Regions from separate parts of the Homo sapiens genome. Here region 2 is linked to region 1. Evidence: fine-mapped expression QTL. A gene starts in region 1. The other region holds a variant in brackets. All regions are shown on one strand. Distances are between the middles of the regions.

Region 1 (5,367 bases):
TAGTTGAGTCTCTTTCAGGAGATACTATCTCAAGGACCTTGCAATAAACAGTCCATATAGGTAGCAGTGCAGAATTGAGTTGCAATGCCCTTAACTATAGAAGCAGTGATGATGATGGTGATGATGGTGGTGATGGTGGTGGTGGTGGTGGTGGTGGTGACGATGATGATTTTAATGCTAGCAATTACTGAACTCTTACTGGGTACCAAGTACCTTGCTAAAAGCTTCATATGTATTATCCCAATATTGGCTGTGTGATAAGTACTATTATTCTTCTCAATTTACATAGGAGGAAATAGATTTAGAGGGGGTTAAACAGCTAGCTCAAGATCACACAGCAATTTGGGAACCCAGATTTGTCTGAACGCAGAACCCATTATTCTATGAGGGCAAGGGAGTGTTAAACATCGCAGGCTGTAACAACTTTTGGAAAGAGCCAGCTTTAGCTTCCTCCCAGGCCCCTTCTCTGATCCTCCTCTGGGATTGTTAGCCATATCTGAGTGTCTAAATTGTCGCAACAGCTGCAACAGCCGTTTGGGGGTGGTGGCTCCTAAGAACTGTGGACTTTCTCTGCCACTGAGGATGTGAAGCTGACAGCTTAAAAGAATTCCGTTTTGGTGGGAATGGAGATGTCTGGAGACCTCAGGGGATAAACTTGTGTCTTTGCTAGCCTGTCTTTCTCCTAACAGCATCTCCACAGTGCCTGGCACCACTTGGTACTTGATAAATACCTGTTGATTGATTCCCAAAGATCCCAGTTCCATTTCCCACGTACCTGCCCGCTCGGGGCGCAATCAACAACTAAAACTGGAGATTTGGGGATTTCAGAGGAACCTGTGAGAATCCTGATGGAGCTGGAAATGCGAATTTAGGAAAGACAGGCAGTCTACCACCCTCCTCTTCTCGCCCGCTTCTCCTATTTCTCCCCACTCCTTCCCCTCCCTTTCAGGAGCTCAGGGCCATAAAAATGCAGATGGAGGATCGGTGTGAAATAACGGGCCCATATAAATCCCTCTGCCGCCCGCCTGCAAGATGGATTGGCCGCATTGAAATTCCTCCGCGAGGATAATTAAACTCGGGGCCTCATCCGGGCAAAATTACATTCCTGTAATGGCGTCGCTCGGGGTCCCGGGAAATTGCTCCGTGGGCTTTCAGCGGCGGTTTTTATCGCCGGCCGGGGTGTGCCTGTCTGCGGCTCGCCTCTCCTCCGGGACCGTAAAGCTGCTGCCGTGATTTATCCTCCCCTTCTCCCAAATCCGATTAAATGGAGGAGCTCGGGGCCGGGGCGCCGCGGGGCCCGGGAGCCGGGAGGGGGCGGCGGGAAGGACGGGGCCAAGGAGGGGAGGACAAACGGCCCCTCAGAGAGTGGCGGATTTGCCTTTATTTACAGCCGCGGCTTTCTTTTTATTTTTTATTTTTTATGGGGTTTGGTGAGCTTTTCCCGTCTTTCTCGTGCTGCGTTCAAGCACGATGCAGGGACGGCAGGGGTTTGGAACTGGATAGGCCTTGTCGCCCTGTTCCAAAGGGCAGGGCAGGTCCTGTCTGGGAGACAAGGAGGCCTAGGAAAGATGAGGGCCAGGAAGCCTCCCCCACCTCCTTCCATCAGGGGAAGGGCGAGCGAAAGGGGAGAGAAAACCCACGTTCAGGAGAGCATGGGGGCGGGAGGGGAGGGCGCTGCTTATCCCAACTCGCGTAGTTGAAACCTGAGCAGAGGCTCGGGCAAGCCTGGAGTGACCTCGCAACCTTACAGCGGGTCGCAGGTGCCCGTTATTCCTAGACTGTCCCAGGAGCCAGGAAAGAGGGATTCGGATCATATTTAACCCTATCTTCTGGCTCGCTGATGCTGCTTCTCTCATGGTTTATCACCGGAATGGAAAGGAGGAAACGGGGAGTGGGGGAAAGGGCGAAGCCACCAGAAGCAGCTGCGGCATTTTGCTGACTATTCGCCCATGGAGCCGGTTTGCCATCCAGTGATGCCAGAGTCCCGGCGCGACAGAAAGCAGGACTCCCAAGATCTTCCTCCTGCTGCATTTTAGGCACTGAACCCCAATCCCGACCGTATGTTAACACTGAATTCTGAGTAGGAGTTTTGTTTTGGCAGTGTGACGACTGCGCATGCTCGGAAAGGGGACGCAAGTCCGAGATCCCAAACGCGGTACAGACCAAACCGCAGTCCACGTTACGGATCGGCTTACTCCGCGGAGTTGGCCTCATTTCTGCAGTCGGCGCTCCCTGTAGTTTCTCCTCTCGAACGCCAGGTGGAGCAACCGGCCGGATACCGCCACAGCCCTGGCAGGCGGCGCTGTGATGCCTGAGCTGATCCTGTATGTTGCAATCACTCTATCCGTGGCTGAGCGACTCGTTGGCCCGGGTCACGCATGCGCTGAGCCTTCCTTTCGCTCTTCCCGCTGCTCCGCCCCTCTCTGTCTTCTCTGCAGTGGGAGCAGGTAAGGCCTTGGGACCTAGAGCCCTCTGTGCGCTGCGCACGCGCGCGGGACACCTCACCTTGCGCGGATGCTTTGAGGCGCTTACCTTGCGTGCTCCCACCCTGGTCCTCTCGCCCTTTCTTGCTTCCGCTATCCCTTAGCCTTAGAGTTGGCTCTTCCGCGTGCCGGTGACCTCCAACCGCGCGGGCCTGGCGCCATCTTGGATGTCTCGCAGGGGGAGGATACCTTGGAGCTGGCCAAAGTTAGATCCTGGAGTGCTGCTTTTCACCTGTTCCACCCAGTCCCTGCAAACACTCTTTTCTCGCCCTCTGGCCCTTTCAGATTGTGACAACCCCCAGGCTCTCCCCTCCTATCTCTGCTTTCTCTTCTCATCCTGACTTGTGCCTTCTTTATTCTGAAATCTCCAGACTTTAGGCCCCAGAACCTCAGGTGCTCCGAGCAATGGAGATAGTGGATCGTCTAAAGTCACCAATCCCTCTAGTCAGCACCCCTCAATTTAAAAAGTAAACCTTGAACATGGTAGAAGTGGGAAAAAAAGCCAAAACATCGCCTCCCGTTAGGTTGTGGCTTGGGATAGCTAAGGCAGAAGAGAGAGGCTGGTTGCTTTGGAATCACTAGTTATTTACCAGTACCTTTCTCGCATCCCGGCACGCTGGTGAAGTTGTAAAAGTCACAAATGGTGGGCTAGAGATGAGGGTTTCTGTTGAGGCAGCAGGCCCAGAAAGGTGGGGTAAGGCCAAGCTAGTGGGGCCAGCATGAGACCCTGCCTGCCAGCTTTCCTGTGAAGGATTAATTAACCTCCCCAGATTCTGCTGTTACAAGGAAAAGAAGGTTTAAGGAAAGGAATAGTTAAGTTACTACCCCTGTGACTCATCTACACTGAGGAAAAAGCCCGTGATGATTTTGGAGTCCTGATTCTGGATAGTGCCTTTGCCCAAGTTGTAGGCTAACAATTGCAGAGTTGCCATGGTTAGATAGCCAATGGTGGGATCACTTAATTGCCACCCCTTGTTGTGGGTTTATTATATGCCAGCACCACATTAAACTCTTTATGTATGTTAATTTGTAAATGAACATACTTAATCCCCCTAAGAGCTGCATTTTACAAAGAAGATAATAAGGTATAATTCCCTTAGAAAAGAACCACCCCTTCTTTTTCTAAAAGCCTTAAAGAACTATTGGATTTTGACCCAAGAAAACCTGAATAGTACGGCAGCAAAATTGGGTTAGAGTTACATATAGGCAAAAATCAGAGTTCTAGATAGGACAAGAGTTGAAGACATCCATTAACTTAAAAGTAATTAAGGCTGGGTGTGGTGGCTCACACCTGTAATCCCAACACTGGGAGGCCAAGGTGGGAAGATCTTTTGATGCCAGGAGTTCCACAATAGCCTGGGCAAAAAATAAATTAAGAGCAATTAAGATGTTGGATTCAGAAGTGTTTTAACCTGGGACAATCTGAGTTCAGTTCATTTAATGAAGTGGTATTTAATAGCCCTAAGCATTCACTGAGTATTTCAGCCTGTGACATATTAGAAAGCATGTAACTTAAAAGATCCAAGTTCAAGTCTATCCTCTACCACTACCACAGTTTCAAGACTGGGTTTAGGGTCACGCTCTTGCGTTAAGTATACCTAATAATCATCTGGGAAACTTGTTTGAAATACAGGGCACTTGAGCCTTATTCCCAGAGATCTTTTTTGTTTGTTTATAGACAGGGTTTCACGTTGTTGCCCATACTGGACAACTGGCGTGATCATAGCTCACTGAAGCCTCCAGCTCCTGGGTTCAAGCAGTCCTCCTGCCTCAGCTTCTGGAGTAGCTGGGACTACAGGTGCACTTCCACCTCACCTGGCTAATTTTATGTTTTGTAGAGATGAGGTCTTGATGTTTGCCCAGGCTGGTCTCAAACTCCTGGCTTCAAGTTATCTTTCCGCCCCAGCTTCTCAGTGTTGGGATTACAGGAATGAGCCACTGAACCTAGCTCCCCCAGAGATCTTGACCAGGAAGGTCCAAGTTGCGCCCAAGAATATGCATTTTTTAATACGTACACCACCCAGATAATTCTAGTTCAGATGGGCTTCTCACTTCACTTGGAGAAACCCTGCCTTTAGGTTTTTAACTCACCTTCTGTTTGAGGTAAGTTCACTTCTACCAACTTAGATACCTATAGGGTGTCAGATCTTCTTTAGATCTTGGGGAGACACAATTTAATACTTTTTTTTTTTTTTTTGAGACAGTTTCCCTCTTGTTGCCCAGGCTGGAGTACAATGGCGCAATCTTGGCTCACCGTAGCCTCTGCCTCCTGGATTCAAGCAATTCTCCTGCCTCAGCCTCCTGAGTAGCTGGGATTACAGGCATGCACCACCATGCCCGACTAATTTTGTATTTTCAGTAGAGACGGGGTTTCTCCATGTTGGTCAGCCTGGTCTCGAACTCCTGACCTCGTGATCTACCCGCCTCAGCCTCCTAAAGTGCTAGGATTACAGGCGTGAGCCACTGCGCCCAGCCACTAATACCTTTTGGATAGACTAATAACAGAGTTCCTCCTTGATCTTCCTCATCTTATTAATACAGGAAATTGAAGTATTTTCAGGAATCAGATACTTCCAGGGATCAGCAAAGAGATTGTTGGAGACCTTCCAGTGTCTTGGCCTTCAACAAATATCTCCCAAAACTACAAAGACTCTAAAGGGCAACTTTTTGTTTGTTTGTTTGTTTGTTTGTTTGTTTTGAGATGGGGTCTCGCTCTGTCACCCAGGCTGGAGTGCAGTGGCGTGGTCTCGTCTCACTGCAACCTCCGCCTCCTGGGTTCAAGCAATTCTCCTGCCTCAGCCTCCTGAGTAGCTGGGATTACAGGCGCGTGCTACCACACCTGGCTAATTTTTGTATTTTTAGTAGAGGTGGGGTTTCACCATGT
Region 2 (5,367 bases), 680 kb before region 1:
CTTCCCAATTATCAGTCGCTGGGGGGAAAAAAAAAAAACTCAGGAGACACAGAAGGAAATCCTGGGGTCTAAGACCATAGAGGACAGATCTTAGCAAAAAAGCAGCCACCCGCCACGGCCCACACATCCACCCCAGCCCCTAATTTCAATAAGGGCTGAATGAGGGGAATGAAACTGAAGAAAAGCCAGGCTTTCTTGAGGCCTTCTCTCTCTTGCGGTTGTGCTTGGCGAGTGAGGCCATGCACTGGGTCCCTCGTGGTGCGTTGCTCATGCGTGTCTCGGGATGTGTGTGTGTTTGGAGGCCCTTTATGCTCACGAGTGTGAGTCACTGTCTGTCTCTCTTTGTCTCTTTATCTCTGTCAGTCTCTCGCCCGAGTCCGAGCTCTATCCCTGACTTTCTGACGCTATCTCTCACTGCCTCTCTTTGTCTCTTTCCATCTGTCCGTCTCTCCTGTAGGCTGTCTTCATCTCCTGTACCTCTGTTATCGCCTTTTTTTTTCTCCTAAGCTCGTCTCTCCAATCCCCGCTGCCGCGCTCCCCCCGCCCCCTCCCCAGTCGCCCGCCCGGGCTGTTCTTGCTCGTTCGCACGCTCTCTCTCTTTCGCTGTCTCTTACAGGCAGATTTATGGTCAGCCCAGGGCCTTTCATTGGCCAAGCGCTGACAGAACTTGATTTAACGCCGCCTCTCATTGGCTGAGCTTGACAGGCCGATTTACGAGTCACTCTACCATTGGCCAAACCACCTTGGCCCTGATTTATGGCTCAGCAGCCGCGGGGAGGGGGGTGCAGCTGCTAGGGAGTGAGGAGTGAGGATGCCCCTCCCCTCCCCTTCCCGCCGCGTCCCTCCTCCTCTCCCCCGCTTTTTTCCCCTCTTTCCCTCCCCTCAAGGAATGGCGCTCCCTCTACCTGTTCCTCAGGCCCCCTCCTCCCTTCTCTTTCGTCCACTGGGAGGGGAAACTGGGGTGTGGTGGTAACGGGAACTGAAGGGATGATGGGGTCTGAGGGTACACATGGGCCGAGGAGTCGAGTTTGAGGGGTGTGGATGGGGGCCGACAGGGAGAGCAGAGGAGACTGAACAGGGAGAGAGGATTCCGAGCTGAGGAACGAAGGGGAAACTGAGAGGGCAAAAGGATGACAGAAAGAAAGGAAGGTTGAGGAGAGAAGGAAGGCAGGGGAAGAGAGAGAGGGTTAAGGAGCTAAATGGGGGGTTGGGTAATTTGTCCAAGATCCGAGAAGAAAGAAGGAGAGATGAAGAGAAAGGACACATTTGAGGGGCCACACGGGCTGAAGCAGGGAAATCGGGCATCGAGAGAGGGACTTTTCAAATCTCACTATCCAGACTGAATAAGAGACGGAAATTTCCTTTTCACACAATGGCTCTGAAAAGGAAAAGCATTAGAGAAGCAAAGACAGAGAAAGGCGCAATAGGGAGGTGAGAGAGAGGGAGAAGCAGGAAAGGACAACTGGAAGGTAATAGCAAAGAAAAGAGAGAGGGAGAGCGACAGAGAACTAATGGGAAAGACCAGGAGGAAGGTAGGTTTTTGGTTTTTTGTTTGTTTTTAGGGGAGGGAGGAAAGGTGCCGTGAGAGAAGACTACTCCCCAACGGAAATATTGACAGAAAGGCTCCTCCTCCTCCCCTATGAAGACCCATTGGCGTCTGCAAGGGGACAGACGAGTCAGGCGCCTCCCCCAGGAGATATTCTGCTTCCTCAAGGCTGCAGTAAGCTCCCCATCCCATGCACCTCACTCCTCCCCTTGCCCACCTCCCCAGTTAAATTTATGAGTCCAGGGTGGCCTTCAGGAATTAGGAATATTTATGCTTCTTTGAGAGTGAGATTTAGAAGGTGATAAATAAGGGTCCACTGGGGGGTGCAGCTGGGGGCTCCTATTTTTAACATGGCCATTTTCCCAAGGCCCCACCCACACATTCCCTCTCCTCCTGAGCCAGAGAAGGAAGCACAGACGGAGGTGAGGAATGGGTTTCAGGTATCAGGAAGAGGGGTTGACTATCCTGTAGAGCCCCTCAGAGGACTGCAGAGCTTTGCAGCAGAAAGGATTGAAGGCAGATAGGGGAGGAACTTTCCAAGCATCCTGGCATTCGTATAGCCCCTAGTGTGCAGTTACAACATTTTTGCAGAAGGTGGGGAGAAGCCCATTTCCCCCCTGTCCCCTTAAGCTCAGTTGCTGAGGAATAGGGGAGATAAGCCAGAAAATTCAGAGGCAGATTTCTCTGGCCTGTCACCATCCTCACAGGAAAGGAAGATTTGAAATCCCCCACCTCCACAGACCACAGCCTGGATCCCTGGGAAAGGAGGCTAGGAATGTGGGGCTCAGGGCATCTCCTAGGAGTCTTGGCCTCCAACCTGCCCACCCTCACTGCTGCTGAGAATTAAAAACAGCCAATACTTCTTGACATCCCTTGCTCTGGGCCTCCAGGAAATTGAGAAGGGGTGGTGGATCTGCCTATGGATCCACATACCTTCTGCAGCCCTCAGCTCTAGAAGCCATGTGTCTGTGACCCCCCAACCCAGTGAAAGGGCTTGTTCTGGGTTTGGGTGGGTAGTGAACAAAGATGGAGGTCCATAATATAAGGGAGACCTAAGGAAAACAGAGCTGGGGAAGAGTCACACATCGCCCCCATCCCCCATGCCCTCCAACCGCTATGGCCTTAGCAAGGCTGGCCACAATGCACATGCGTACATACACTAGACTGCTGCCTGGAGTGGCAGGAGGGAGGGAAGGGTCTAGACTGGCCCTTTAAGAGCCACTTAGGGTCAGAAAGCTTGGGCTACAGAGAGGGGAAGGAGCTGATGTCAGAAGACGGATGGGCAGCAAGATGGGGATTGATGCTAATGGGGGAGTTAAAGCTAAGTACCCAGACACTCAGAGGGCAGAACTGCAGATCTGTCTTCCTTATGCTCACCCCCTCTCCAAACCAAGGCTGTAAATCTGCCTCTTCAACTGGGGGAAGGGGGACTGAGGAAAAAAGACATGCTCTCTTCTCCCCTTTCCTGTTTCTTCCTTACTTGGTGTGCCCACACCACCC[C/G]CCTCCACCCAATTCTTTTGTCCTCTCCCATTCTCTTGCAATCCACAACCCCTTCCCACTAAAATTTCCAATTTTGGGCTTTGCATCAGAAATTGACAGAATGGTTTCAGCTTGCAGAGGAGTTTAAGAGAGACCACAAGTTTTCCCTCACCAGACCCGGGTGGGAATGCTTGGTGGGATTGTGGTGAGAAACTGGTAGATTGGTAACTCCCAGATCCCTCAGTTTCTCATCCTTCCACTGTCTTCTCACTCGGAGGTAACTCTAGCAGCCGTCTTCCAGGACAATAGGGTAAAGGCAAGAAGCAGGAAGTTGGGTGCCAGGGGCTGGAAGGGGCATGAAAGATTCTGAGCTGGGTTTGTGGAGGCTTCTGACACACTGAGATTCTAGAGGGGCTGGTGGTGGGCTTCCAAGGGCAGCTAGAGAAGCTGCGGGAGCTGTCCACTGAAAGATATACAGTCTGGTTTCTCGGAAACTCCTGGATCATACTGTTCCCTCTCCTCAAGCACACACCCTGTCTGCTGAGTAGAGACAATTTCGGGCCAATAGTGTATTTACTGTAAAGGACCAGCTGCTCCTTGTACCTCTCAGGAGGGAGTTGGGGATCTTAGGGAAGAAGACTTTTTCAGAGGGGCTAGAGCTAGAATTAGCCCTTGGTAAATTTCATTTCTTTCTTCTTTCTTCAGGTGAGACTGTTTCTCCCACCTTTCAGGACCCATAATCACCCCTATTTCCTTTCCTACTGGCAACCAGGGCCTGTTCTTGAGAAGTCCCTCTCTATATTAGAGGACAGTCCCTCTCATCTGTTGCAGTATTAGGCCTGAACTCTTTCCCAGCCCTGGAAACAGTTGGTGCCTGATTGCCTCTAGTTTCCAAATCCTCTTCCATATCCATAAAAGAATAACCCTAAGATATCAATCTCATCTCTTCCTTTCTCCCAGGTTTTCCTTCAGAGGCCTAAAATCACCTCAGGGTCATACTCTTCTCTGTTTTCCAAGTCTTCAGAGACAAGGGAGAGAGGAAAGCTGGAGTGGGAAAATGGGGTTGTGAGCAGCAGCCACTGGAACCCAGCCTTCCAGCCTCCCGGCATCCGGCCTAGTGCTCCCTCCTATCTGAAGGAGGTCAGCCATTGCCCTCAGCCCTGGTCTCTGGCTACTTCTCAATACTGGTGATAAATCCTGTCTTTGTCTCCCCTCTGACCCAGGCCCCAGGCAGGCTGGGGGTCAGAGCTGGGGGAGGGGTCAGTGTGGAGGAAGGGGAGATACAAGGAGAATGGGGAGAAGATAGACAGGAGCAGCTGGTGGGCAGGCATGGGGGGTGGGCAGTGAGGGGATGGGGCTCTTCATTCTACAGATCCTGGACATTCCAGCAGGCCTGCATTCCAAGTGAGAAAGCCAGGATTGCCGAGTTGTGGAAATACCTTTGGAATGGTCCCTTGAGCATCTGGAATACTGGGAGATGGGGGGCTAGTATGGGGTGCCTCAAGGAAAGAGACTGCTGAAAGAAGTGGAAAAATATTGTGGAAATCATCCTATCCATACCGCAGACCCCTGTGCAAATGTGCCATGCGCACACACACACACACACACACACACACTCACACACACAGGACTTATGGCATGAGGGAGCCCCGGAGAGCCAGGCTGCCCTTTGCCTGGCCCCTCCCTAGTGGCCTTCTCTTGCTATGACTTTCCTGTTTCCAACTCTATTCTTTTTCTCTGCTCCCAGTCTTGCCTTCCTTCTTTGTGTCTCTCATTCTCCCAGTTTGTTATTCTCACCGTCTCTCAGCCTCTGCCTCGGTCTCTCAATCACTTTTTCTCTCTCATTTTGTTTCTTTCCATCTTCTTGTCTCCCTCTCGCCCCTCCCCAAATTCTTTGGACGCTGCTCCATCTGTCCTGTTTCTGCCACTCTTCAGCCCAGCCATCCCTCCTACCTCAGTCCCACCTCAGAACCCTGTTCTGACCCAGAGGATACCTTTGGGAGTTAAGATTCCAAGAATAGATGGAAAGGAGAAAAGAGGCTCTGAATGAGTCCCTGCTTTAGTGGGAGGTCTGGGAATCATACTGGGTTATGATATGGCACGGAAGGGCAGGGTGGGCAGAAGGTGACCAGAAAGAGAAGCACAACTAAGGGAGGTAGGGTGAAATGAGAGGGAAGAGATTGAAAAAGAAAAGGCATAGGCCGGGCATGGTGGCTCACACCTATAATCCCAGCACTCTGGGAGGCCGAGGCGGGCGGATCACCAGAGGTCAGAAGTTGGAGACCAGCCTGGCCAACGTGGTGAAATCCTGTCTCTACTAAAAAATACAAAAAAAAAAAAAA

The links. PIP is the estimated chance that this variant, and not a neighbour inherited with it, causes the effect.
Region 2: its variant is fine-mapped to the expression of ATP5MC2 in adrenal gland (GTEx, PIP above 0.99).

What each region holds. Positions count from the first base shown.
Region 1 is chr12:53,673,133-53,678,499 of GRCh38, reverse strand. ATP5MC2 (ATP synthase membrane subunit c locus 2) reads left to right here and starts at 2,417. Exons shown (of 5, transcript NM_005176.7): 1 at 2,417-2,447. RefSeq lists enhancers at 1,926-2,155, 2,266-2,715.
Region 2 is chr12:54,354,602-54,359,968 of GRCh38, reverse strand. The region is part of intron 1 of GPR84-AS1 (GPR84, ZNF385A, ITGA5 and GTSF1 antisense RNA 1); the gene reads right to left. It also overlaps a transcript of GPR84 not described here. Among named protein-coding and RNA genes, the nearest start is that of GPR84-AS1, 3.6 kb to the right of the region's middle. RefSeq lists silencers at 343-522, 673-742, 753-992 and enhancers at 550-1,374, 1,375-2,199, 2,200-3,025. The variant C/G (reference allele first, on the strand shown) is at 3,047.